Linked DNA regions of Homo sapiens: all the other regions are linked to region 1. The links come from fine-mapping of genetic effects on gene expression. A gene starts in region 1. Each other region holds a variant in brackets. All regions are shown on one strand. Distances are between the middles of the regions. Region 1 holds the start of LINC00662 (long intergenic non-protein coding RNA 662). Region 2 has its middle 300 kb from the start of LINC02987. Region 3 has its middle 130 kb from the start of LINC02987. Region 4 has its middle 350 kb from the start of LINC02987. Region 5 overlaps LINC02987 (long intergenic non-protein coding RNA 2987). Region 6 has its middle 52 kb from the start of LINC02987. Region 7 overlaps LINC02987 (long intergenic non-protein coding RNA 2987).

Region 1 (4,067 bases):
TTAGTGCACTTGTCACCTGAGTAGTATATATTGTACTCAACAGGTAGTTTTTTCATCCTTCATCCACCTGCCACCCTCATGTCTGAGTCTCCAAAGTCCATTATGTCACCCCGCATGCCTTTGCATACGCATGGCTTAGCTCCAACTTATAAGTGAGAACATATGGCATTTGATTTTTAATTCCTGAGTTATTTCACTTGGAATAATGGCCTCCAGCTTCATTCAAGTTGCTGCAAAAGACATTATTTCATTCCTGAGGTGCTGACCTCAGGTTTACTGGACACGTCTCAGAGACAGGGCAGGGGATGAGGGCAAGACCCCTCTAAGGCACTCCCCCACACCCTATCACTCCTGCTCTTAAAGGACCCCTGAAGGGCACTGAAGGGGTTGGACTTCTCAGTGCAAGCCAACACCCACACCTCCGAGTACCAACAGCCCCAGAGAACAGCAGGGGTCCTCAATCCTGAGCACCCCTCCAAGGAGGTCAGGAGAACAAGCCTTAAGCCAGAGAGTGAAGAGGATCAGTGTCTCGGACCCAGAGAGGATTCAGGGAAAGGGCACAGGAGGGACCCCAGTCCAGAGCCAGACAGAGTTCAGCTGAATGTGGGAACTCATGCCATGGAGTGGATAGCCCTGGATGACTGAAGAGCCCAGTGCCCAGGGGCGTCTCACCCACTGTGGAGACAGGCCCTTATATTAGGTGGCAATGGGGCCACCTGAGTTCTGGACCATGGCTCAAGCCCAGGCCAAGCAGCCCTGGAGTAAGGGCATGAGGCAGGGGGCCCCAAGCCAAGTTGAACACTGGGGTACCGTCCCTGGAGCAGCCTGGGGTACCCTGACAGCACCCATGCCCCAGTCTGCACACACCCCTTGTTCTGAAATTAACAGCCTGCAGGGGTGTCCTCAGTATCAGAACTAGTGGGCCACACAAAGCCCTGGAGGACTCTACAAACCCAGGTCCATGGGGAGCAGCCCTGTAAGGGCCAGATGGCTGGGTGGAAAAGCTGACCAAGTCTTCCTTCCTTTCAGCCAAATCTGGAAGAAAGGCACCTTGCCTAGAGCAGTGTTCCTGGTACCCAGGCCTCTGTGGGCATCCTTCAGCACAAAGACCCTCTCCAAGGGGGGATGGGCTGGCCCTCCCAGGACCACCAACCCACTTCCAGAAGCCCATGGGTCATCCCCACCTTCACCTGACTGGGCTGTCCCTGACGCTAAGGCCCAGCAGCACGAAGGGGATTCCACACAAATCAGGGCAGTAGGCTGCTCTCTGGCGGCACTGGGGGCTTAGGGTCTGGCCAGCCTGTCCCTGGCTCAGGACACATGCCTGGAAATTAGGGTTTTCTCCTCTGCTCTTAGCATCTCCTGGGTAAACCAATAATTACTCTCCCTCATGTCTCAAAATTCACATCTATCTAAAAGGCGCTAGTGAGGGTGACATTTCCAGGAAGCCATAGCCCATGTCACCCCCTGCAAAGCTGTGACCTTTTCCGCGGGCAGGCCAGGCGGCGGAGTTCTCCCAAAAGCGGATGAACTGGCACTCTGGCTGGAGAAAGCAGAGAGCAGCAGCACAATGGACAGCGTCTGGGACCTCAGGCCGATTCCACAGCAGCTTAGGAAAGCAGGAGGCCCCCTGGGCGGGAGGAGGCTTGATGCTCTGGAGGGAAACGGAACTGAGCAGCGGGAGGTGGGGTGAGCCTGAGACCCGACCGATTTTGGCAAAGGCGAGGCGCACTTTGCAGTATCATACTCTCCTCACTGCCCAGCCCAGACCTGCCCTTCAAGTCCCTCTATGGACTCACTCCCCTTAGCCAGGGGTGGCACAGATTCAGTAGCCAGCATGGGTTTGGAAACAGAGGTCAACACCGCCCTGCCCCTCCCTGCGGGGCTGCGCAACACCCTTGAACCCTGCGCATGCTGAGACTGTAGTCCCATAGCCCTGCGACCAACGGCCGGAAGCAGCTAAGACACTATTACCAGCATGCCCGGCAGGAGGGCACCGCGCTGCCCCCCCCCCTCAAGGGACCAGCATCATCCCCACTCCCGTAGCATACTGGGATTGTAGTCCCGCAGCTCTGCCACCAACAGCCAGAAGCAGTTAAAAAACTGTTCCTCTCAGCATGCCCTGCAAGGCGCGCACCGCTGCTGTACCTCCCTTAACGTATCCGTAACCTCCCTCAACGTATCCGTACCTCCCTCAACGTATCCATACCTCCCTCAAGGTATCCGTACCTTCCTCAAGCTATCCGCACCACCCTCTCTTCCATTTCATGCGAAGATTGTAGTCCCGCAGCCCTGCGACCAGCGGCCGGAAGCAGCTAAGATGCTACTGCTCCCAGCATGCCCCGCGAGGCGCGCACAGCACAGGCCCTCTCTCAAGGTCACCACCTCCACTCCCGTTGTATGCTGGGATTGTAGTCCGGCCGCCCTGTGACTAACGGCTGGAACCGCCTAAGACACCACCCCAGCCAGCATGGCCGGCAGGAGCGCACCGCGCTGTCTCCCTCCAGGGATCCGCACCGCCCTACAATCCTGCTTTGTGCTGAGATTGTAGTCCTGCAGGCGTACAACTAACAAGCTGGGTGCAGATAAGAGACTACAGCTCCCCGCATCCCAAGCAAAGGTCCCTCCTCTACGGAGCCCCTCCACGCGTCCACTGCGGTTCCGCCGTGCCAAGGGGAGCTTGGCTGTTCACGGGCCTCACCTGCTAGCGAGAAGATAGCTTGGCCGGGCGGCTGATCTCACCTTGTAATTCTGACACTGTGTCTCCCGGGCTTGTCGGCTTCATGACTTGTGCCCAAAGTTTGATTTCTCGCAGACCAGGTAAAAGCCAAGAGGCTCTCATAGGCGCCTTGGCAGAGTTGCCATTGGAACGGGCGTCCTCTAGTAGCTGGGATCTCCCCGCCCCTTCCTCCTGAGGGGCCACTCCTTTCTGCCCCACCCTTCTTATTGCCCCACCCTTTGCCACACTCCTTCAGAGATGCGCAGTGCTGCCCCTTTCTATGGGCAGGGCCGAAGGTCCGCGTGTAAAAGTACCCAGTCCCTGGTAACCTGACACTTCCCTTTTAAAAGCCACCTTTTGTCTATCTCTGGCCTGCCACGATTCTTCCTGTGCTCCATAGGAGGACCCATTGGACCCCCGGGCTGGCTGCAGGGCCCACACCTGGGTTAGACCTCGCACAGGGACGCTGCTGCCACTGTAATAAAGCGTGCCTACACGCTTCTGAAACTGGTGTAGGAACAACCTCAGTTCTGTGAAAGGCGGACGCAGCAGGACAGAATCTCCGTGGACATCTGTCTGGAGGAGCAATTTTACTGCGACATTTTAAAGAAACAAATTTAATTGATTTCCAAGGTAAGAAATTAAACCTTGAAAACTAAACTGAAAAGTCATCTGTGTTTGACAAGTCAGACTTTCTCCAAGAAGAAAACTAAGGAGTGCATATTTTCCATTATTATAAATAGTGAAAATGAGAAATCATAGCAACTCCCTGGAAAATCTTGCTCTGCCAGTTTTCTAAATCACAGTAGGGCCTCGATATGGTTTTATTTGTTTTTGTTTTTGTTTTGGAGTGTGTTCACCTTTTGAATATAAGAATTTGCGGTTTTGACCAAGTTTTTAAATTTTCAGCTATTGTTTATTTGTTTTTGTATTATATTTAATTTTTCTGTCTCTCCCTCTCTGTCTCAGACTCAATCATTTCACAGGTCTCTTAGGCCTCTTTTCATTTTCTTTAAACTTGTTTCAGTCTTCAGATTGGATGGTTTATATTGCTGTCTTCTGTTTCTACTCTGTAAACTAAAAGTTCTTTTTATTTTATTATTTTATTGTCTTCTATTTTACTCTTTTTATAATTTCCATGTCTCTGCTGAGACTCTACATGAGTTAATTCATTATGAGAATATTTTCCTTTACCCCCATGAACGTACTTATAATAGCTGCCCTGAAATACTTGTCTGCTGATTACATCATCTCGGACATCTTAGAAATAGCTTCTGCTGCCTGCTTTTTATCTTGTGTATAGTTTGCATGTTACATTTCTTCACACATTTTATGAATTTTAATATTG
Region 2 (4,067 bases), 300 kb after region 1:
GAAGAATGCATACATTACAAAGCGTTTTCTGAGAAAGCTTCTTTCTACTATTTATGTGAAGGTATTCCCTTTTTCACCATAGGTCTGAATGCCCTCCCAAATATCCCTTCACAGATAGTACCAAAACGGGGTTTGGAAACTCCTCAATCAAAAGAAAGGTTTAACTCTGTGAGATGAATGCACACATCACAAAGCAGTTTCTCAGAAATTTTCTGTCTAGTATTTCTTGGAAGATATTTCCTTTTTCACCATAGTCCTCAATGTGCACCCGTATATCCCTGCATAGACTCTACAAAAACAGTGTTTCCAGACTGTTCAATCAAAGAAAGGTTTTACTCTGTGGGAAGAATATGCACATCACAAAGCAGTTTCCCAGAAAGCTTCTTTCTAGTTTTTACCTGAAGATATTTCCTTTCTCAACAGATGTCTCAAAGTGATCCCAAATGTGTCTCGCAGATTCTTCCAAAACAGTCTTTCCATCCTGCTGAATCAAAAGACAGTTTTAACACTGTGACATAAATGCACACATCACAAACAGATTCCCAGAAAGCTTCTTTCTAGTTTTTATCTGAAGATATTTCTTTTTTGACCTTAGGCCTCAAAGTGCTTCCAAATATGCCTTCTAGATTCTCCAAAGTCCCTGTTTCCAAACTGCTCAATCAAACGAAACATTTAACTCTTTGAGATGAGTGCACTCGTCACAAACCAGTTTATCAGAAAGCATCTTTCTAGTTTTTATCTGATGATATTTAATTTTTCACCAGAGGCCTATAAGCGATCCTTAATATCCCTTTGCAGATTCTACCAAAACAGTGTTTTCAAACTTCTCAATGAAAAGTATGGTTAAACTCTATGAGATGAATGCACACATCACAAACCATTTTCTCAGAAAGCTGCTTTCTAGTTTCTATCTGAAGATATTTCCTTTTTCACCACTGGCCTCAGTGTGCTCCAATTTATCCCTTTCTATATTTTAAAAAAACAGTGTTTCCAAACTGCTCAATCAAAAGAAAGGTTTAACTCTGTGAGAAGAATGCACCCATCACAAAGCAGATTCCCAGAATGTTTCTTTCTATTTTATATCTGAAGATATATTGTTCTTCACCATAGGCCTCAAAGCACTCCCAAATATCCCTTCTCAGATTTTTAAAAACACCGTTGTCAGACTGAAAAATCAAAAGAAAATTTTAACTCTGTGAGATGAACTTACTCATCACAAAGTAGTGTTTCTCACAAAGCTTCTTTCTAGTTTTTATCTGAAGATATTTATTTTTCACCATAGGCCTGTAAGCGCTCCCAAATATCCCTTCATACATCCTACGAAAACAGTGTTTCCAAACTGCTCAAAGAATGGTTTAACTCTCTGAGATGAATGCACACATCTGAAGGTGGTTACTGAGAAAGCTTCTTTCTAGTTTTCCTCTGAAGATATTTCCTTTTTCACCATAGGCCTCAAACCACTCCCAAATATACCTTCTCAGATTCTACAAAAAGAGTGTTGCCAAACTGCTCAATCAAAAGAAAGTATGAATTCTGTGAGACGAATGCACTCATCACAAAGCAGTTTCTCAGGAAGCTTCTGCCTAGTTTTTCTCAGAAGATATTTCCTTTTTCACCACTGACCTCAATGTGCTCCCATATATCCCTTCCTAGATTTAAAAAAAAA[GA/A]ACAGTGTTTCCAGACTGCTTAATGAAAGGAAATATTTAACTCTGTGAGAAGAATGCACACATCACAAAACTGTTTCTGAGAAAGCTTCTTTCTAATTTAATCTGAAGTTATCTCCTTTTTCACCATAGGCCTCAAAGCTCTACAAAATATCCCTTCGCAGAGTCTACCAAAACAGTGTTTCCAAACTGCTCAATGAAAAGAAAGATTTAACTCTGTGAGAAGAATGCACCCATCACAAAGCTGTTTTTGAGAAAGCATCTTTCTAGTTTTTATCTGAAGATATTTCCTTTTTCACCATAGGACTCAATACACTCCCAAATGTCCCTTCACAGATTCCATAAAAATAGATTTCCCACACTGCTTCATATTTATCTGAAGATATTACCTTTTTCACCATAGACCCCAATGCACTTCCAAGTGTCCTTTTACAGATGCAACAAAAACAGTGTTGCCAAACTGCACAATCAAAAGAAAGGTTTATCTCTGTGGGATGAATGAACACATCACAAAGCAGTTTCCCAGAAAGCTTCTTTCTAGTTTTTATCTGAAGATACTTCCTTTTACACCATAGGCCCTGAAGCACTCCCAAACATCCCTTCTCAGATTCTACAATCACACTGTTGCCAAACTGCTCAGTCAAAAGAGAGGTTTCACTCTGTGAGATGAATGCACACATCACAAAGCAGTTTCTCAGAAAGCTTCTTTCTAGTTTTTCTCTGAAGATATTTTCTTTTTCACCATAGGCCTCAATACACTCCCATATATCCCTTCATAGATTCTACCAAAACAATCTTTCCAGGCTGCTTGATCAATGGAAATGTTTAACTGTGTGAGAAGAATGTACACTTCACAGAGCAGTTTCTCAGAAACCTTCTTTCTAGTTTTTATCTGAAGATATTTCTTTTTTTACTGTAGACCACAAAGCACTACAATATATCCCTTTGTAGATTCTACAAAAACAGTGTTTCCAGACTGCTCAATCAAAATAAAGGTTAACTCTGTGAGAAGAACGCCCTGAACACAAAGCGGTTTCTGAGAAACTTCCTTCTAGTTTTTTTCTGAATATATTTCCTTTTTCACCATAGGCCTCAACTCGCTCTGAAATATCTCTTTGCAGATCCTACCTAAAGAGTGTTTCCAAACTGCTCAATCAAAAGAAAGGTTTAACTCTGAGAGATGAAGGTAGAAATCATAAAGCAGTTTCCCAGAAATCTTCTTTCTAGTTTTTATCTGAAGATGTTCCCTTTTTAACCGTAGGCCTCAAAGTGCTCCCAAACACCCCTTCTCAGATTCTACAAAAACGTTGATGCCAAACTGCTAAATCAAAAGAAAAGTTTAACTCTGTCAGGAGAATGCCCACATCACAAAGCCAATTCTGAGAAAACTTCTTTCTAGTATTTATCTGAAGATATTTCCTTTTTGACCATAGACCTCAATGTGCTCCCAATTGTCCCTTCACAGATTCAATAAAAACAGTGTTGCCAAACTGCAAAATGAAAAGAAAGATTTAACTCTGTGAGATGAATGCACAAATCACAAAGCAGTTTCCTAGAGAGTTTCTTTTTAGTTTTTATATGAAGATATTTCCTTTTTCAGCATAGGCCTCAATGTGCTCCCAAGTATCTCTTCTCAGATCCTACCAAAACAGTGTTTCCAAACTACTCATCCAAAAGAAAGATTTAACTGTGTGAGATGAATGCCCTCGTCAGAAAGCAGTTTCTCAGAATGTTTCTTTCTAGTTTTTATCTGAAGATATTTCCTTTTTCACCATAGGCCTGAATGCCCTCCCAAATATCACTTCACAGATTCTACAAAAACAGTGTTTCCAAACTGCTCAATCAAAAGAAAGGTTTAACTCTGTGAGAAGAATGCAGACATCACGAAGCAGTTTCTGAGAAAGCTTCTTTCTACTTTTTATCCCAAGATATTTCCTTTTTAACCATAGATCTTGATGCGCTCCCAAATATCCCTTCACAGATACATCAAAAACTGTGTTTCCAAACTGCCCATTCAAAAGGAAGTTTTAATTCTGTGAGATGAATGGACACATCACAAAGCAGTTTCTCAGAAAACTTCTTTCTAGTTTTTATGTGAAGATATTTCCTTTTTCACCCTTGGCCTCAATTGGCTCCCAAATATCCCTTCACAGATTCTAAAAAAAACAGTTTCCAAACTACTCAACCAAAAGAATGGTTTAACTCTATGAGAAGAATGTCACATCACAAAATGGTTTCTCAGAAAGCTTCTGTCTAGTTTTTATCTGAAGATATTTCCTTTTTCACCATATGCTTTTATGTGCTCCCAAATATCCCTTCGTAGATTCTACAAAAACAATGTTTACAAACTACACAATCAAAAGAAAGTTTTAACGTTGTGAGACGAATGCCCACATCTCAAAG
Region 3 (4,067 bases), 130 kb after region 1:
TATAATTCAAAAGGTTGAAAATGCTTTTTTAGTAAAATCTACTAAGGGACAGCTGGGAGTAGATTTTAGTGAAATCTACTAAGGGAAATTTTTGAGGCCTTAGAGACCTGTTGTTAAACAGCCCATTGAGCCCTACAGTAAAAAAAGAAATATTTCATGATAAAAGTATAAACAAGCTATCTATGAGAATGCTTTGTGATATATAGATTTATCTAACTTATTTAAACCTATGTTTTGATTGGCCACTTTGGAAACACTCTTTTTGTAGAATCTGCAAAGGGACATTTCTGAGCCCATTGAGACCCATTGTGGAAAACCAAATATCCTGGGATAAAAACTATAAAAAAATCTATCTTTGAAAAAGCTTTTGACATGCAGATTCATCTCAAAGTGTTAAACCTTTGCTTTGATTCAACAGGTTGAAGACAATCTTTTTGTAGACTCAACGAGGAAACATTTCTGAGCCCATTGAGTCCTATAGTGAATAAACAAACATTTCACCATAAAAATTTGAAACAAGATATCTGTGAAAATGCTTTATGATCTGTGAATTTATCTCATGAACAGAACCTGTGTTTTGATTCACGAGTTGGAAACAATCGTTTTGTAGAATCTATGAAGGTACATTTCTGAGCCCAGCAAATCCTATAGTAAAAAGCCAAATATCCCAAGGTAAAAACTAGAAACAAGCTATGTGTGAAAATCCTTAATGATTTGTGGATTCATCTCACTGAAACAACCGGTGTTTTGATTCACCAGGTTGGTAACACTCTTTTTGTAGAATTTGCAAAGGGACAGTTTTGAGCCCACTGAGGCCTATAGTGAAAAACCAGATATCCTGCAATAAAAATTTAAAACAAACTATCTTTGAAAATACTTTGGGATGTGTGGATTTATCTCACAGAGTTCAATCTTTGTTTTGATTCTTCAGCTTGTAAATGCTGTTTTTGCACAATCTATGAGGAGACATTTCTTAGCCTAATGAGGTCTATAGAGAAAAATCGAATATTCTGTGGTAAAATGTAGAAACAAACTATCTGTGAAAATGGTTTGTGATATGTGGATACAGCTCATGGTATTACATCTGTGTTTTGATTCACCAGGTTTCAAACAATCTTTTGTAGAATCTACAATGGGACATTTCCGAGGTTATTGAGGCCTATGGTGAAAGACAAAATATCTAGTGATAAGAAAGAAAAACAGGCTATCTGTGAGGATGTTTTGTGATGTGTGGAGTCATATCTAGAGATAAGAATGAAAAACAGGCTATCTGTCATGATGTTTTGAAGATATGTGGAGTCATCTCACAGACTTCAACTTTTGTTTTGATTCAACAGGTTGGAAACACCCTTTTTTAAGAATCTGTTAATCAACATTTCTTTCCCATTGAGGACTACAGTGAAAAACCGAATATTTCATGATAGTAACTAGAAAAAGTTATCTGTGAAAATGCTAAGTTATGGATTCATATCAAAGAATGTAACCTATTTTTCAATTCACCAGGTTGAAAACACTTTTTTTGTAGAATCTACAAAGGGATATTTGTGAGCCAATTGAGGCCTATAGTGAAAAACAGAATATCAAACAATAAAAACTAGAAACAAGCTATCTGTGAAAATACTCCTGGCTGACTTCAGGCATTCTAATTAAAGAGACTCCTGGCAGACCCTGGGCAGTCTAAGAATAGAAATGCCTTGGCAACTCCAGGCATTCTTTTTTTTTTTTTTTTTTT[TTTTTTTTTTTTG/G]AGATGGAGCCTTGCTCTGTCACCCAGACTGGAGTGCAGTGGTGTGATCTTGGCTCACTGCAAGCTCTGCTTCCTGGGAACCCCAGGCATTCTAACGGGAGAGACTCCCAGCTGATCACAGGCATTTTAATGATAGAGACACCTGGGTGACCCAAGGCATCATTATGGCAGAGACCAGGCATTCTAAATAGAAAGATTTCTAAATAGGCTGACCCCAGGCATTCTAAATAGAAAGATTTCTTGCCGAATGCAGGCACTCTAATGATACAGACACATGGCTGACTCCAGTAATTCTAATATGGAGACTCCTGTCTGACCGCAGGCAGACTAATGATAGAGACACATGGGCAGCTTCAGGCATATTCATAGGAGAGACTCCTAGCCAACCCCAAGTGGCCTAATGACAGAGACACCTGGGAGAACCCAGGCATTCTAATGGAAGGAACTTCTGCTTGACCCTGGGCAGTCTAATGATAGAGACACTGGGAAATTGCAGGCATCATAATAGGAGACTCACAGCTGACACCAGGCGTTCTAATGGGAGAGACTCCTGACCAAGGCCAGGCACTCTAATGATGGAGACACCTCGGTGACCCCAAGCATTCAAACAGATGAGACTCAAGGCAGACCAAAGGCAGTCTAATGATAGATACACCTGGGAAACCCCATGCATTCCAATGGAAGAGACTTTCCACCAACCCCAGTGTGGAAAGTGGAAAGTTCCTCTTCAAAGTTTCCCTTCTTGTTAAATAACAAATGTTAGAAATAATAGTTTCTTTTAAAAACTAACTTCCTTCAAGCCTCCTTGCTTTAATACTAAGAACTCTTTATTAAACCCTATCCTATGTAGCTGTTGGACATGAGGGAATAAGTACATTCTATGTCTTCGTACTTTAACCAAGATATTTGTTCTAGACACGCTCAAGCATGTTCCATCTCACAGCTTATGCCCCTTCCTTATTTGGAAATATTACTTTTCTAAGTTCTTTTGCAAGCAACTTCCTCTTTTCCTTTTGTTCTCCATTACCTTTACCTATTTAGGAAAGTTTAAGTTGTTAGTCAATCGGGTTTAGTTTAGACTGTGAGGTCCAGCTCCCACCAATGGAGATAGGACACAGTAGTAAGGACCCAATGCATAAGGGATACATATTCTTGTCCTTCTTTGTTCATTGTGCTCTCGTGGCAGGATTGCTGATGGACAGCACCCTTTCTGCAGAAAGTAAAATTGCTTTGCTGAGAACATTCTTTGAGCACTAGTTCTTCTTTTCAGCACAAAGGAATGAGCATTTCTAACACCCAGGCATTCTAATGATAGAGACATTTGGGCATACTCAAGCATTCTAATGGGAACAAATCCTGGCCTATCCCAGGCAGTCTAAAAGTAGAGACACCTGGCTGAACCCAAGTGCAACCCCAGACATTCTAATGGGAGAGACCACTGGCTGACTGCAGGCAATCTAATGATACAGTCACATGGGCGACCCCAGAGACTATAATGGGAGAGACCTTAGGCTGACCTCAGGCATTCTAATGATAGAGACAGCTGAGCCAACTCAGACGTTCTAATGATAGAGACACCTTGGCTATCCCAGTCATGGAAGAGACTGCCAGCTGACACTAGGCATTCTAATAGGAGAAACTCCTGGCCGACCTCAGGCAGTCTAATGATAGAGATACATTATTGATTCCAGGCATTTTAATTGGAGAAACTCCTGGCCGAACCTAGGCATTTTAATGGGAAAGACTCCTGGCCTATTCCAGGCAGTTTAAGGATACAGACACCTAGGTGACACCAGGTGTTCTTTTTCTTTTACTTTTTCTTTTTTTCTTTTTCTTTTGAGTTTCGTTCTGTTCCCCAGGCTGGAGGGCAGTGGTGTGATCTTGGCTCACTACAGGCCCTGCTTCCTGGGTTCACTCCATTCTCCTGCCTCAGCCTCCTGAGTAACTGGGACTACAGGTGCTTGCCACCATGCCCAGCTAATGTTTCTGTGTTTTTAGTAGAGACGGAGTTTCACTGTGTTAGCCAGGAGGGTCTCCATCTCCTGAACTCATGATCCACCCCTCTTGGCCTCCCAAAGTTCTGGGATTACAGGTGTGAGCCACCGTGCCCAGCCCACCCCAGGTATTCTAATGGGAAAGAATTCTGGCCAAACCCAGACAGTCCAATTATAGAGACACCTGGGCGAATCCAGGCATTTTAATTGGAGAAACTTGCATCCAACCTCAGGCAATCTAATGATAGAGACACCTGAGTGCCTCCAGGCATTCTAATGTGAAAGTCTATTGGCCAGCCCCAGGCATTCTAATGGAAAAGATTCTTGCC
Region 4 (4,067 bases), 350 kb after region 1:
TCAAACTGCTCACAAATATCCATATGCAGATTCTATAAAAAGAAGAAGTTTCTCAGAAAGTTTCTGTCTGGTTTTCATGTGAAGATATTTCCTTTTTCACCCTAGGCCTCAAAGTACTCACAAATATCCCTTTGCAGATTCCACGAAAAAAAACTGTTTCCAAACTAGTCAATAAAAAGAAAAGTTCAACTCTGTGAGATGAATGCACACATCGCAAAGCAGTTTTTCAGAAAGCTTTTGTCGAGGTTTCATGTGAAGATATATACTTTTTCAAAACAGACCTCAAAGGGCAGACAAATATCCCTATGCAGATTCTCCAAAAAGACTGCTTCCAAACTTTTCCCTCAAGGGAATTGTTCACCTCTGTGAGATGAATGCACAAATCACAAAAAAGTTTTACAGAAAACTTCTTTCTAGCTTTTATATGAAGATATTTCCTTTTTCACCACAGCCCTCCAAGCACTCAGAAGTATCCCTTTGCAGATTCGACAATAAGACTATTTTCAAACTACTCAGAAAGGTTCAACTCTGTGAGATGAGTGCACATATCACAAAGAAGTTTCTCAGAAAGTTTCTGTCTAGTTTTTATGTGAAGATATTTCCTTTTTAACCATACGACTCAAAGCACTCAAAAATATGCCTTTTCAGATTCTATAAGAACATAATATCCAATCTGCTCAATGTAAAGAAAGGTTAACCTCTGTGAGATGAATGCACAGATTTCAAAGCAGTTTCTCAGTATACTTCTCTCTAGTTTTTATGTGAAGATATTTCCTTTTTCACTATAGACCTCAAAGTGTTCGCAAATATCCCTTTGAAGATTCTACAAAAAGACTGTTTCCAAACTGCTCAGTCAAAGGAAAGGCTCAACTCTGTGAGATGTATGCACATTTCACAAAGAAGTTTCTCAGAAAGCTTCTGTCTACTTTTTATGTGAAGATATTTCCTTTTTCACCACAGGCCTCAAAGCGCTCAGAAATATCCCTTTCCAGATACTGCAAGAACAGAGTTTACAATCTCCACAATGAAAAGAAAGGTTTACGTCTGTGAGATGAATGTGCACATCACAAAGAAGTTTCTCAGAAAGCTTCTGTCTAGTATTTATGTGAAGATATTTCCTTTCCATCCATAGGCCTCAAGCCACTCACAAATATCCCTTTGCATTTTCTACAAAAAGATTTTTTCCAAACTGCTCAATCAAAAGAAAGTTTGAACTGTGTGAGATGAAAGCACATATCACAAAGAAGTTTCTCAAAAAGCTTTTGTCTACTTTTTATGTGAAGATATTTACTTTTTCACCATAGGCTTCAAAGCACTCACAAGTATCTCATTGCAGATTCTACAAGAAGAGAGTTTCCCATCTGATCAATGAAAAGAAACATTTACCTCTGTCAGATGAATGCACACATCACAAATCAGATTCTCAGAAGCCTTCTGCCTAGTTTTTATGTGAATGTATATCCTTTTTCACCATAGGCCACCAAGGGCTCACAAATATCGGATTGCAGATTCTACAAAAAGACTGTTTACAAACTACTCAAGGTTCTATTTAGTGAGATGAATGCACACATCTCAAGGAAGTATCTCAGAAAGCTTCTGTCTGGTTTTTATATGAAGATATTTCCTTTTTCACCATAGGTCTCAACAAGCTCACAAATATCGCTTTGTAGATTCTACACAAAGACTGTTTTCAAACTGCTCAATCCATAGAAAGTTTCAACTCTGTGAGATGAATGCGCACGTCACAAAGAAGTTTCTCAGAAAGCTCCTTTCTAGTTTTTATGTGAAGATATTTTATTTTTCACCATAGGCATCAAACCACACACAAATATCCCTTTGCAGATTCTACAAAAATAATGTTTCCAAACTGCTCAACCAAAAGAAAGTTTCCACTCTGTCAGATGAATGCACACATCACAAAGCAGTTTCTCAGAAAGATTCTGTCTAGTTTTCCTATGAAGTTATTTCCCTTTTCAGCAATGGCCTCAAAGGGCTCACAAATATCCCTTTGCAGATCCAACAAAAAGGCTGTTTCCAAACTGCTTAATTGAAAGAAAAGTTCACCTCTGTGGGATAAATGCCACATCACAAAGAAGTTTCTCAGAAATCTTCTGTCTGGTTTTTATGTGAAGATTTTTCCTTTTTCACCATAGGACTCAAACCACTCACAA[A/C]TATCCCTTTACAGCTTCTGCAAAAAGACTGTTTCCAAACTGATTAATCAAAAGAAAGTTTCAACTCTGTGAGATGAATGCAGGCATCACAATGAAGTTTCTCAGAAATCTTCTGTCTAGTTTTTATGGGAATATATTTCCCTTTTCACCACAGGCCTCAAAGTGGTCACAAATATCCCTTTGTGGATACTACAAGAAGAGAGTTTCCAATCTGCTCAGTGAAAAGAAATGTTTACCTCTGTGAGACGAATGCTCACATCAGGAAGCAGTCTCTCAGAATCCTTCTTTCTGGTTTTTATGTGAAGATAGGTCTTTTTCACCATAGGTCTCAAGCGCTCACAAATATCCCCTTGCAGATTCTACAAAAAGACTGTTTCCAAACTGCTCAACGGAAAGAAAGGTTCAACTCTGTGGGATAAATGCACACAGCTCAAAGGAGTTTTTCAGGAATCTTCTGTCTAGTTTTTATGTGAAGATATTTTCTATTTCACCATAGGCCTCAAAGCGCTCACAACTATTCCTTTGCAGATTCTACAAGGACTGTTATGACTGTTTCCAATCTGCTCAATCAAAAGAAAGGTTCAACTCTGTGAGCTGAATGCACACATCACAAGGAAGTTTCTCAGAAAGATTCTTTGTAGTTTTTATGTGAAGATATTTACTTTTTCACCATAGGCCTCCAAGTGCTCAAAAATATCCCTTTGCAGATTCTGTAAGAAAAGAGTTTCCAATCTACTCAATGATAAGAGACATTTACCTGTGTGAGGTGGATGCACGCATCAAAAAGCAGTCTCTTAGAAACCTCCTGCCTAGTTTTTATGTGAAGATATATCCTTTTTCAAAACAGGCCTCAGAACGGTCACAAATATCCCTTTGTGGATACTACAAGAAGAGAGTTGAAAAGAAATGTTTACCTCTGTGAGATGAATGCCCACATCACGAAGCAGTCTCTTAGACATCTTCTGTCTAGTTTTCAAGTGAAGATATTTCCTTTTTCACCATAGGCCTCAAAGAGCTCACAAATATCCCTTTGCAGATTCTACAAAATAACTGTTTCCACAGTGCTCAATCAATAGGAAGTTTCAACACTTTGAGATTAATGCATACATCACAAAGAAGTTTTTGTGAAAGCTTCTGTCTGGTTTTTATGTGATGATATTTCCTTTTTCGCCACAGGCCTGAAAGCAGTCCCAAATCTAACTTTGCGGATTCTACAAGAAGAGGGTTTCCAATCTGCTCAATGAAAAGTAATGTCTACCTCTGTGACATGAATGCCCACATCAAGAAGCAGTCTCTCAGAAACCTTCTGCCTAGTTCTTATGTTTAGATATTTCCTTTTTCACCATCGGCCTCAAAGGGCTCACAAATATCCATTTGCAGATGCTACAAAAACACTTTTTCGAAATTGCTCAATCAAAAGAAAAATTCAACTATGTGAGATGAATTCACACATCACAAAGAAGGTTCTCAGAAAGCTTCTGCCTAGTTTTCATTTGAAGATATTTCCTCTTTCATAATAGGCTTCAAAGTGCTCACAAATATACCTTTGCAGATTCTATAAAAAGAGTGTTTCCAAACTGCTCAATCAAAAGAAAGCTTTAACTATTTGAGATGAATGTACACATCACAAAGTAGTTTCTCAGAAAGCTTCTGTCTAGTTTTCATGTGAAGATATTTCCTTTTTCACCATAGGCCTTAGAGCACTCGCAAATATCTCTTTGCAGAATCCAGAAGAAGAGAGTTTCCAATCTGCTCAATGAAAAGAAACGTTTACCTCTGTGAGATGAATGCCTATGTCATGAAGCAGTTTCTGAGAAATATTTTGTCTAATTTTTATGTGAAGATATTTCCTTTTTTGCCATAGACGTCAAAGGGCTCAAAAATATCCCTTTGCAG
Region 5 (4,067 bases), 51 kb before region 1:
TGTTCATCCAGCACTGTTGTGGAGAAATCTCTATTTCAATCTATTCCTATACATTAGTTAGTGTAGCTCCAGCTGGGGGCAGTGGCGGGCACCTGTAGTTCCAGCTACTGGAGGGGCCCAGTCAGGAGAATCACTTGAGCCCAGGATGCAGAAGTTGCAGCAAGCCGAGATTGCCCCATTGTGTGTGTGGCAGGCCAGGTCTCACTAACTAAGGCGGGCCTCTGCAACAACCGTTTCAGTACTGACCAAGTGGCTAAGTTAAATATTAAAAGCTGAGAGAACCAGTGCACTCTTGCAAAGGGTGGAATGTCGCAAAAGTCCACCAAGAGTTTTCACTAGGACTTTCCTGGGCCTGCCTTGGAGCATGACAAGATGATGAGGGAATTCTTAACAGGACCATTTAAGATTAAATAAGTTTAATTGGGGGTCTGAAAAAACTCCCTGTTAGGGTCACCCCGACCAGACCCTTCCCCTCCCACAGGCCTCACAATACACTCCCTTGTGCTCTCCACACAGCTACCCCAGGGCAAAAGACAAACCCCTGCCTTCACTGAGCCCTCCAGTATCTGTTTGTCCAGACAGTTATAGGATGCGGTTAACATATCTCTTAACCTCGCATAACAAAGCTGGCAAAAAACATCTCCAGGATGCAGTTGAGACACCTGCATCCCCAACTCAGCTCCTCTACTGGGACCCAGTTCTCCTGCCCCGACTCAGCTCCCCGACCCTGACCTGGTTCTGGCCCTGTAAAACCCTGCTATAGTCTGTAAGTGGGGCTGCCTCCTCTAACTGTGATGGAGCAGCCAAGCAGCTCAATAAAGCTTGCTTGTCTGACTTTGGGTCTCCTCATCCTTTCTCTCAGCTGACCTTACATTTCTGGTGCTGAAACTCAGGAAGGTGGTAGAGTTTGGCCTCCCTTTCTCCCTTTCTCCTTCCCTCCATTCTTCCCCCGGCCGAACTACCCCTTCCAGAACCTGCTAGAGACCCAAGGATCTCATACAGCCTTTCCATCGCTTGGTGAACACATCCGACACCAGGACCACCTCAGGGGTGAGTAAAGGAGACTTTTGCCTTCGGTCTGGAACCCTTGTCTACTCTTTCCTTCCTGAAAGACCTAGCACTGGGCCAAGGGTTTCCTCCTCCCGGCCTCTAGGCCCTTGGTATCTCCCTTTCGGGGATGCCTGAACGGAGGATTATCGCACTTCTCCGACTTGAACCGTGGGACAAGGGATGCCTTCTCCCACCATTCTAGCCAAGTCTCCTGTCTCTACCCCTCCCTTTCTCATTTCACTAAGGGAGCCTCCCAATCCACTCCCTCAAAGACATCCCCCCCCCGCCCCTTGGGTATCTCCTCTGTAACATTAATGCCCTTATCCTCCATTCCAAAATTTGGCCAAAAAAACCTCATCTTTTATTGTAACACTCCCTGGCCAAAATATAAACTAGACAATGGCTCCCAATGGCCTGAAAATGGCACTTTCAATTTCAACATTCTCAGGGACCTAGACAACTTCTGCCATCGCAATGGAAAGTGGTCAGAGATCCCTTATGTTCAGGCTTTTTTTTGCCCTCTGTAGCCGTCCCTCCCTCTGTCAGTCCTGCTCTACTTTCCAAATCCTCCTCGCCTGCTCCAAACCCGACCCATCCTCAAACACCCCCCTCCACCACTCCTAGTGACAATTCCTCCTTCTTTGACCCTGCCAACTTTCCTTCTCTCTGACAACACCATAATCCTCCCCCAAATCATCACAATCCTCCACCATATGCTCCCGCTCCTGCCTTACCTCTTTCCCCTCCTCTCTCCTAACCACCCAACTTCTGATTCTGATTGCTCCCCATCTCCACTTCATACCTGCTCTCGGACTCAGCATGCCCAACAGTCGGCCCCCTTACTTCCCCTCCGAGAGGTGGCTGAGGCTAAAGGATTCGTTCACATCCACATTCCCTTCTCCCTCTCCAACCTTTCCCAAATTAAGAACGGTCTCAGGTCCTTTTCCTCCAATCCTGACACTTACATCAAAAAGTTCAAATACCTCACTCAATCTTATAAACCCACTTGGCATGATCTCTATATTATCCTTTCTTCTACTTTCCTCCCAGAAAAACAAAGAAAAGAGTGCAGCTTGCAGCTCAGGCACATGCTGACGATCTTCATTGGCAAGACCCTCCTAAGCCCATAAAGGCTGCTGCATTTCCCCGGGAAAAATCCTCCTGGGAGTACCAACCCACAGAGCCCGGCTGGCATCTCATAACCACATGATCACTTCCTTATTGCAGGCCTTAAC[G/A]AAGCTGCCCACAAGGCCGTAAACTTTAAAAAACTCAAAAAAAAAAATCTCCCAAAGGGCCAATGAAAATCTTGCCAAATTTCTTTCCCGCTTTACAGAGGCCCTCCAAAAATACACCAGTGTTGACCCCACCTCCCAGGAAGGAACTATTGTTCTTAATACCCATTTCATCTCTCAGTCTGCTCCTGACATACAGCGCAAGCTCAAAAAGGTAGAAGATGGCCATCAAAACCCTCTACAAGACCTTCTTATCCTGGCCTTCAAGGTTTTCAACAACAGAGATGGGCAAAATAAATTAAATAAAGCCCAACAAGATCAGGCTAAATACCAGCTCCTAGCAGCAGCTATCTACCCAGGCTGCCCAGAGGCTCAAAAGACCCAATAGCAGTGACCCTCCTGGGCCCTGTTTTAAGTGTGGCAAAGAAGGCCATTAGGCCTGAACATGCCCTAACCCACGAATACCAAAAACTCCTTGCCCAGCCTGCCAACAAACCAGTCAATGGAAGTCTGATTGTCCTCTTAACAAGTAGACTAACAGGCCGGTTCCTCAAAGCCCTGGCAAATCAAAGAGTGAAGAGTCACTCACACTCCCACACCTCCTTGGCCTGGCTGCTGGAGACTGACAGAGCCCAGGGCCCCCGGCCCCATCTGCCGTCACTGCATTGGAGCCCAGGGTAACTCTGCTAATAGCAGGTAAACCGATCTCTTTTTTAATCAACAGTGGAGCCACCTAATCGGCTTTACTTGTATTTTTAGGACCCATTTACCCTTCCCAGGTCTCTGTTGTGGGGGTTGATGTACTCTTCTCATGTCCATGCACTACTGAATCCCTTACTTGTTCCCTATTTAATACTGTTTTTTCACACTCCTTCCTTATCATGCCTCATTGCCCCACCCCCATCCTAGGCCGAGACATTTTAGCCAAATTCAAGGCTTCTATCAACTTTTTCTGTCCCCCTCAACCAGAGTCTCTCCTGCTCCTCTCTGCTAGTCCAGCCTCTGATCCCTCCTCCCCAGCACCCGCTAGCCGCCTCCCTCATTAATCCAGTAGTGTGGACACCACCACCCCTTCCATAGCTGCTCACTAGGACCCCATCAAAATCCAGTTAAAACAACCCTCTAAATTTCCCAATGTTCCCCAATTCCCCATTTCCCTAACATACCAAAAGGGCTTACAACCCATCATAAACAAGCTCTGCTCATGCAGTCTTCTTAGACCAACACACTCTCCGTATAACACCCCCATCCTCCCTATTAAAACATCTGATGGCTCATACCACTCATCCAGGACCACCGAGCTATCAATCAGGCTGTCCTCCCTATTCATCCTGTAGTCCCTAACTTCTATACACTTTTCTCTCTTGTCCCCTCCAACACCACCCACTATACAACAATTGACCTGAAAGATGCCTTCTTCACCATTCCCCTACACCCTGATTCCCAAAACCTCTTTGCTTTCACCCAGACTGACCCCAACACTCTCCAGTCACAACAACTCACATGGACTGTCCTCCCTCAAGTCTTCAGGGATAGCCCTCATTTCTTTGGGCAAGCCCTAGCCCAAGACTTCACCTCCTTAAATCTTTCCTCCAGCTGCCTTCTTCAATATGTAGATGACCTCCTCCTCTGTAGCCCCTCCTTAAAAATCTCCCAAACTCATGCTGCCACCCTTCTCAATTTCCTTACTAATAAAGGCCATAGGGTCTCCCCCTCCAAAGCACTGCTTTCCACCCCTATGGTGACCTGCTTAGGACTTCAACTCTCCCCCAGGTCCCAAGCCAT
Region 6 (4,067 bases), 53 kb after region 1:
TAATAGGAGAGACTCGAGGCCAAACCTTGGCATTCAAATGATAGAGACAAGTGGGTGGCTCCAATCATTTTCAGGATAAAGACACCTGAGTGACCATAGGAATTCTAATGTGAGAGGCTCCTGGCCAACCTCTGGCATTCTAATGGAGAGACAACTGGCTAAGCATAGGCAGTCTAATGATAGAGATACCTGGGTGATCCCAGGCATTCTAATGGGAGAGACCCCTGGCCGACCCCAGTCAGTCTAATTAAATAGACACCTGGGTGACCCCAGGCATTAAAATAAGAGAGACTCCTACCCAATCTCAGACATTCTAATGGGGGAGACTTCTGGCAGTTTATTGATAGAGACACCTGGGCGACCTCAGGCATTCTAATAAGAGAGATTCCTGGCCGACCCCAGACGGTCTATGCATAGGGACACCTGGGCGATTCCAGGCATTATAATGGGAGAGTCTTACGGTTGACCCCAGGCAGTCTATGGATAGAGACAACTGGGCGATTGCAGGCATTCTAATGCAAGAGACTCTCTGCCAACCCGAGGCATTCTAATGATAGAGAAACCTGGGAGACCCCAGGCATTGTAATTATTTAGGCACCAGTGAGACCCCAGGCATTCTAATGGGAGAGAATTTTGGTTGACATCAGACATTCTAATGAGAGACTCCTGTCTGATGCCAGGCAGTCTAACAATAGAGACACGTGGGCAACCCAGGTATTCTAATGGGAGAGACTTCCAGTCATCCCTAGACAGTCTAATGATAGAGAAACTGGGAGACCCAGACATTTTAATGGGAGAGACTCCTGGCCAACCCAAGCAGTCTATGGATAGAGACTTGGGTGACAACAGGCATTCTAATGAGAGAGATTTCTGGCCCACCCCAGGCATTCTAATGATAGAGACAAGTGGGCAACCCCAAGCATTTCAATGATAGAGACACCTGGGCAACCACAGGTATTCTAATGTTACAGACTCAGGGCTAACCTCAGACATTCTAATGGAGAGATTCCTGGCTAAGCACAGGCAGTCTAATGATAGACATACCTGGACTACCACAGGCATTTTAATAGGAGAGACTCCTGGCCGACTAAACGCAGTCTAATTAAAGTGACAAATGGGCAACTCCTGGCATTCTAATGGGAGAGACTCCTGGCCAACTGCATGCAGTTTTATTAAAAAGACACCTGGGCGACCCCAGGCATTCAAATAAGAGAGAATCCTAGCTGACCCAAGGCATTCTAATGGGAGACACTCCTGGCTGACCCAAGCAGTCTGTTGATAGAGACACCTGGGTGACTGGAGGCATTCTAATGGGAGAGATTCCTGGCTGACCTCACACAGTCTAATTATAGAGAAACTTGGGTGACCCCAGGCATTCTAATGGGAGAGACTAATGGCCGCAGTGGCTGGCATGAAATTAACCAACCCTGGGTTTAGTATAGCTTAAACTTTCATTTATTGCTAGGCTGACCCCAGGCAGTCTAATGATAGAGACAAATAGGCAACCGCAGGCATTTCAGTGAAAGAGACTCCTGGATGACCACAGACAGTCTAATGATAGAGGCATCTGGGTGACCCTAGGCATTGTAATGAGAAAGACGCCTGGACGACCTCAGGCAGTATAATTAAAGACCCCTGGGTGCCACCAGGCATTCTAATAGGAGAGTCTTTCGGCTGACCGAAAGCATTCTATTGGGAGTGACTCCTGTTTGACTCCAAGCAGTCTATGCATACAGACCACCTAAGCGACCCCAGGCATTCTAATGAAATACATACCTGGCCGAACCCAGACAGTCTAATTATAGAGACACTTTGGCGACCCCAGGCATTCTAATGAAAGAGACTTTCATCTGACATCTGAAAGTCTAAGGATAGAGACTCCTGGGCGACCCCAGGCATTCTAATGGGAGAGAGCCCTGGTCGAACCCAGGAAGCTCAATTATACAGACTCCTGGGCGACCACAAGCATTCTAATAGGAGAGACTCTCAGCCCACCCCAGGCAGTCTAAAAATAGAGGTACTTGGGCCACCCAAGTCATTCTAATGGAGGAGACTCCCCAACGACCCCAGGCAATCTAATGTTAGAGACACTAATGAAAGATACTCCCAGACAACACCAGTCAGTGTGATGAAAGAGACACTTGGGTGACCCCAGGTGTTCTTATGGGAAAGACTCTCAGACCACCGCAGGCATTCTAGTGATAGGGATACCTGTGCAACCCCAGGCAGTCTAATGATAGAGACACCTGGGAAACCCCAGGCAGTCTAAATAAGAGACACCTAAGCGACCCCACGCTTTCTAATAAAAGAGACTCCCAGGCGACCCAAGGCATTTTAATCAGACTCCTGGCCAAACCCTGACAATCTAATGATGGGGACAAGTGGGCCACCCCAATCATTTTAATGATAGAGACACCTGAGTGACCCCAG[A/G]CATTCTAATGTGAGAGACTCCTGGCAAGCTCCAGCGATTCTAATGGGAGAAACTCTTGTCTGGCTTCAGGCAGTCTAAGGATAGGGAAATTTGGGTGACTGTAGGCATTCTAATATGAGACTCCCAGCCGAACCCAGGCAGTCTAATAATAGAGACACTTGGGGGACCTCAGGAATTTTAATGGGAGAAACTTTTGGCTGACCACATGCAGTCTAATGATAGAAAACCCTGGGTGGCCCCAGGCATTCTAATGTGAGAGACTTTTGGCCAACCACAGGCAGTCTAATTGAAGTGAAAGGTGGGTGGCCCCAGGCATGCTAATGGGAGAGACTCCTGGCTGAACCCAGGGAGTCCATTGATAGGGACCTCTGGGTGACCACACACACTCTAATAATAACGACTCTTGGACGACCCCAGGCAGTCTAATTAAAATGACCACTGGGTGACCTGAGGCATTCTAGTAGGAGAGACTTAGCCGGCCCAAGGCATTCTAATGGAAGTGACTCGTGGCCTACACCAGGCAATCTATGCATAGAGACACCTAAGGGACCCCAGGCATTCTAATGGGATAGATTCCTGGCCAGCCCTAGGAAATCTAATAATAGAGACACCTGGGCGATTGCAGGCATTCTAATGCGGGAGACTCTTGGCAGACATGAGGCTTTCTAATGATAGGGACACATGGGCAACCCAGGCATTGCAATGATAGAGACACCTGTGAGAACCCAGGCACTCTAATGGGAGAAACTTTCCGTTGACACCAGGCATTCGATTGAGAGAGACTCCTGTCTGACACCAGGCAGTCTAATGAGAGAGAAACCTGGGAGAGACTCTTGGCTGACCCAAGCAGTCTATGGGTAGAGACACATGGGTGACCCCAAGCACTCTAATGGGGAAGATTTCTAGCTGACTCCAGGCAGTCTAATGATAGAAACACCTGGGCAACCCCAGGCATTCTAATAAGAGATACTCCTGTGTGACCCCAGGCAGTATTATGATAGAGACACCTGGTGACCGAAGGCATTCTAATAAGAGAGACTACCGATCGTCCCGAGGTATTGTAATTATAGAGACACCTGGGTGACCCCAGGCATTGTAATGATAGAGACATCTGTGTGACCCCAGGTATTCAAATGGGAGAGACTCTTGACTGACACCAGGCATTCTAATGAGAGAGACTCCAGGAAGATCCAGGCAGTCTAATGATAAATATACCTGGGCGAACCCAGCCATTCTAATTGGAGAGACTTCTGGCTACCTCAGTCATTCTAAGGTGAGAGACTATTATTCGACTTCAGGCAGTCTAGGGATAGACTCCTGGTCCAATCCAGGCATTCTAATGTGAGATACTCCTGGCAGTACCTAGGCAGTCTAATGATAGAGACACTTGGTCTACCCCAGGCATTTTAATGGGAGAGACTCCTTCCTGACCCCAGTCAGTCTAATTATACAGACTCCTGGGACACCCCAGGCATTCTAATGAAAGAGACTCCCAACCAACCCCAGGCAGTGTGATGATAAAGACACTTGGGCTACTCTAGGCATTCTAATGAGAGAGACTCCCAAAAGACTTTAGGCATTCTAATAATAGAGACACCTCTGTGACCCCAGGCAGTCTAATGATAGAGAGAACTGG
Region 7 (4,067 bases), 76 kb before region 1:
TTTAAAAAATCTGGGACAAAGTAATTTAAAATTCTAGTACAATATTACAACCAGAATATTAAAATTAATAAAATCAAGATACAGAAAATTTTATCACCACAATTTGGGCATTTTCATTATGTGTTTAAAATTTCAAATGTCTTTTTCCCCCTTTCAAATAGATTTTATTTTTTAGGACCATTTAAGTTTACAGCAAAATTGAACGGAAAGTACAGATATGTCCCACATCCTCCCTTCCCTCACAGATGCACAGCTTTTCCCTCCAGCATGGCAGTCTTGTTACAATTAATGAATCAATATTTACATTTTACTATTACCCAAAGTCCATAATTTGCATTAGAATTTACTCTTCATGTTGTACATTCTAATGACAAATGTATAACGACATGTATCCACTATTATATTATTATACAGAATATAATGCAGTATGATACTATAATACAGTATATGTATAGTACACATTACAATATTTGTACTGTCTTAAAAATTGTTTGTGCTTCACCTATTCATCCCTCCCTCCTCTCAACCCCTGGAAATCACTGATTGTTTCACTGTTTCTATAGTTTTGTCTTCTCCAGAATATCATATAGTTGAAATCATACAGTATGTAGCATTTTCAGATTGGCTTCTTTCATTTAGCAACAGGTATTTGTTTCTTCCATGTTTTTTCATGTCTTGATAGTTCTTTTTTTAAATAACTGAATAAGATTTAATTGTCTAGATATAATGTTCATTCATCATTCAAGTTTTGGTAATTATGCTTCTATAAATATCTGTGCATAGGTTTTTGGGTGGGCATAAGGTTTTTAACACATTTGGGTAAGTACTAAGGGGCACAACTGCTGAATTTTATAAGACTATGTGTGGTTTTGTAAGAAACTGTCAAACTGTCTTCAAAAGTGGTTGCACCATTTTGTGTCACCAGCAATGAAAGAGAGTTCTTGTTGCTCCACGTGCTTACCAGCATTTGGTGTTGTCAGTGTTCTGAATCTGGACCATTGTAATTTGTGTATAATCATATCTTATTGATATTTTATTTTGAAATCTTCTAATATCATATTATATGGGGCATCTTTTCTTGTACTTATTTGGCATCTACATATATTTTTGATAAAGTATCTGTTCAGGTCTTTTGCCTGTGTTTTTTAATTAAGCTTTTTTACCTATTGTTGAGTTTTAATTTTTTAAATATATTAGATAGAAGTACTGTATCAGATATATCTTTTGCAAATAGTTTCTCCCAGTCTATAGCTTGTGTTATCCTTCTACTGACAGTACCTTTGGCAGAACAGAAGATTTAAATTATAATGAAGGCCAGCTTATCAATTGTTTCTTTCATGGGTCATGCCTATGGTGTTGTATCTAACAAGCCATCACCATGCCCAAGGTAGTGTAGATCTCTTTTCCTATGCTATTTCCCAGAAGTTTTACAGTTTTGCATTTTACATTTAGTCTTATGATCCATTTTGAGTTAATTTTAAGCAGTGTAAAGCCTGTTTGTAGATTCTTTTCATATGTATATCCTGTTGTTTGAGTGCTATTTACTGAAAAGACCATCTTTTCCTCATTGTATTACCTTTGCTCCTTGATTATATTTATGTGGGTCTATACCTGTGCTCTATAACCTGTTGCATTAATCTCTTTTTATCTTCTTTTATGAATACCATACTCTTTTGGTTACTGTAGTTTTATAGTAAGTCTTGAACATGGGTAGTGTCAGTCCTCTGGCTTTTCATTTTTTCTAATGTTGGTTATCCTGGGTCTTTTGCCTTTTCATGTAAACTTTAGCATCAGTTTGTTGATTTCCATGAAATAATTTGTTGGGATTTTTATTTTAATTGTGTTAAGTCTATATGTCAAATTAGAAATAACCAATGTCTTGACAATATTGAATCTTTCTATCCATAAACATGTAGTATCTATCAATTTCTTCAATTATTTGATTTTTTAAATCATAGTTTTATGGCTCTCCTTATATAAATCTTGTACATACTTTGTTAGATTTTTAGCCAAGTATTTTATTTTGGGGGATGCTAATATAAATGTTATGGTGTTTTAATTTCAAATTTCAGGTATCTATTGCTGATATATAGGAAAGTGATTACATTTTGTATATTAACCTTGTATCCAGCAAATGTTGAATGGTAAAGATCTTTGTTTGGTTACACAGCTAATGTGCAGTGCTGGCAGGATTTGAATCCAGGTTAGTCTAATATTCAGGTTCTCTAAACTATGATCTGTTTTCTTTCCTGAAATTTTCTTCACCCATTTATTCCCATTTGGGACCCTTGCTCAACATGCTGTGTGCAATGAAGGCTTACCTATGCCCTCACTGATACTAAAGATCTTTCCCAGCTGCCTTTCACCACACCCAAAAGAAAGTTAAGGGC[A/G]ATTATTACTTATTTGTATTTTTTTGCTCTAAGTCTTAATTCATTTAAGGAGGAATCTAGTTAACCTATCCCTGTAATCTCAGAGCTTAGCACAAGCATTGACCCAAAGATAGCAGTGAGCAGATACTTCTTTAAATAAATTACTATATGTTGATATCTGCCCCACGTAAGCGGGGAGGGAAAGATCTGGAAGAAATTAGGTGTTCAGAATTAACATTCTATGCTTAGGCAGCCTGGGAGGTCTGCATGTTCATTGAGGCATCAGGGATTTTGTGGTTTCCTTCAAGGAAACCCCAAGCATGTAGAATTTTTTCTCTCCTCACATTATGCTTTGAGAAACTTGAGATGGATCTTGTCAGCATAATTCAAGAGTAATTTAAGTAGTAAACCAAAATCAAAAGCAGAGGCACACTTTCATTGATATACATGAGTGTCAAAGTATTTCTCATGCAAAAAGTATCCTAATTCATCTAATAACTAAAAAGATGGCTAAGCAGAGACAATGGTAAGAAAAAAAAGTGAAAATTAAATGCTCTTAGATTTACTAACTTGTTTCCTTTTTCATTTAAAGTAATATCAATTAAAAAGCAAACTAATTTTCTCTACTTCTTCCACAAAATCAAATAAAATTAAATTTAGATTATAACATATAAATAGAATATAACCCAAAATAAAGGTCAAGAACACCATTATTGGCTGGGCACAGTGGCTCATGCCTGTAATCCCAGCACTTTGGGAGGCCAAGGTGGGCAGGTCACCTGAGGTCAGGAGTTCAAGACCAGCCTAACCAACATGGAGAAACCCCGTCTCTACTAAAAAACACAAAATTAGCTGGGTATAGTGGTGCATACCTGTAATCCCAGCTACTCAGGGGGCTGAGGTAGGAGAATCACTTGAACCCAGGAGGCAGAGGTTGCAGTGAGCATATATCGCACCATTGGACTCCAGCCTGGGCAAGAAGAGCAAAACTCCGTCTCAAAAAACAAACAAACAACAACAAAAAAACACAATTATTTGCTTTGAAAAGTTTGTTTTCATTCTGATTACCAAACAAGAATGCATTCAAAGCCTTAGGGACAGCAAAACAGGCTTTATGGAGATTGTTAGAATTTCCAATTAGAAAGAATGTTTTCTCAAGCATCAATTATGAAGCCATGAAAGTCTCAACCTCCCTAACTAAAATAAGATCTCAAATCCATGAACAGTCCATTAGAGCAGCAATTCATGTTCCTCTTGAGAAAGCCAGACAGTAGTTCCTGCTAGGGGAGACAGAAGAGGTAATGGGCAAATTGGCAGAGTACTGTGCTCACTGTTCTAACATCAGAGCTCTCTTCACAAACCTCTGATGGGTCTAATGCTGGGACAGTTCACAGTAGGACACTACAACAAAGCCTGCCTTTAACATGAAAATTATTCCTAAAATGTCTCTGTTGATAGCTGGCAATGCACAAAATAAGGAGTTGGCTATTTGCAAGGAAGCAAGAATTAGCATAATCAGCAGCTGCAGCCTTACCCACAGACATAGAACCATAAAGAACCTCATGCCTTCTAAAACCAAGTTAGGCAAGAGGCCTGAATAGAATAATACTCACCACCTGCCAATGTCCCCCAAACCACAGCAAGGAAGAGCCATTTGCTACTGGTCTAAGCATACTCTATAGTTTTCTAATTAAAATA

Evidence for each region. PIP is the estimated chance that this variant, and not a neighbour inherited with it, causes the effect.
Region 2: its variant is fine-mapped to the expression of LINC00662 in whole blood (INTERVAL, PIP above 0.99).
Region 3: its variant is fine-mapped to the expression of LINC00662 in whole blood (INTERVAL, PIP above 0.99).
Region 4: its variant is fine-mapped to the expression of LINC00662 in whole blood (TOPMed, PIP above 0.99).
Region 5: its variant is fine-mapped to the expression of LINC00662 in tibial nerve (GTEx, PIP above 0.99). The same link has a PIP of 0.9 or more in adrenal gland, cerebellum, fibroblasts, gastroesophageal junction, ovary and subcutaneous fat.
Region 6: its variant is fine-mapped to the expression of LINC00662 in cerebellar hemisphere (GTEx, PIP above 0.99). The same link has a PIP of 0.9 or more in kidney cortex, nucleus accumbens, stomach, sun-exposed skin and vagina.
Region 7: its variant is fine-mapped to the expression of LINC00662 in visceral fat (GTEx, PIP above 0.99). The same link has a PIP of 0.9 or more in ileum and thyroid.

The regions. Positions count from the first base shown.
Region 1 is chr19:27,792,285-27,796,351 of GRCh38, reverse strand. LINC00662 (long intergenic non-protein coding RNA 662) reads left to right here and starts at 2,412. Exons shown (of 3, transcript NR_027301.1): 1 at 2,412-2,820; 2 at 3,120-3,352. It overlaps LINC02987 (long intergenic non-protein coding RNA 2987), which reads right to left and starts at 2,921. Exons shown (of 7, transcript NR_146733.1): 1 at 2,743-2,921. RefSeq lists enhancers at 252-1,033, 2,200-2,679.
Region 2 is chr19:27,489,998-27,494,064 of GRCh38, reverse strand. No RefSeq gene overlaps it. Among named protein-coding and RNA genes, the nearest start is that of LINC02987, 300 kb to the left of the region's middle. The variant GA/A (reference allele first, on the strand shown) is at 1,667.
Region 3 is chr19:27,658,288-27,662,354 of GRCh38, reverse strand. No RefSeq gene overlaps it. Among named protein-coding and RNA genes, the nearest start is that of LINC02987, 130 kb to the left of the region's middle. The variant TTTTTTTTTTTTG/G (reference allele first, on the strand shown) is at 1,733.
Region 4 is chr19:27,443,302-27,447,368 of GRCh38, reverse strand. No RefSeq gene overlaps it. Among named protein-coding and RNA genes, the nearest start is that of LINC02987, 350 kb to the left of the region's middle. The variant A/C (reference allele first, on the strand shown) is at 2,172.
Region 5 is chr19:27,843,309-27,847,375 of GRCh38, reverse strand. All of the region lies in intron 1 of LINC02987 (long intergenic non-protein coding RNA 2987), which reads right to left. Among named protein-coding and RNA genes, the nearest start is that of LINC00662, 51 kb to the right of the region's middle. The variant G/A (reference allele first, on the strand shown) is at 2,286.
Region 6 is chr19:27,739,206-27,743,272 of GRCh38, reverse strand. No RefSeq gene overlaps it. Among named protein-coding and RNA genes, the nearest start is that of LINC02987, 52 kb to the left of the region's middle. The variant A/G (reference allele first, on the strand shown) is at 2,431.
Region 7 is chr19:27,868,053-27,872,119 of GRCh38, reverse strand. All of the region lies in intron 1 of LINC02987 (long intergenic non-protein coding RNA 2987), which reads right to left. Among named protein-coding and RNA genes, the nearest start is that of LINC00662, 76 kb to the right of the region's middle. The variant A/G (reference allele first, on the strand shown) is at 2,391.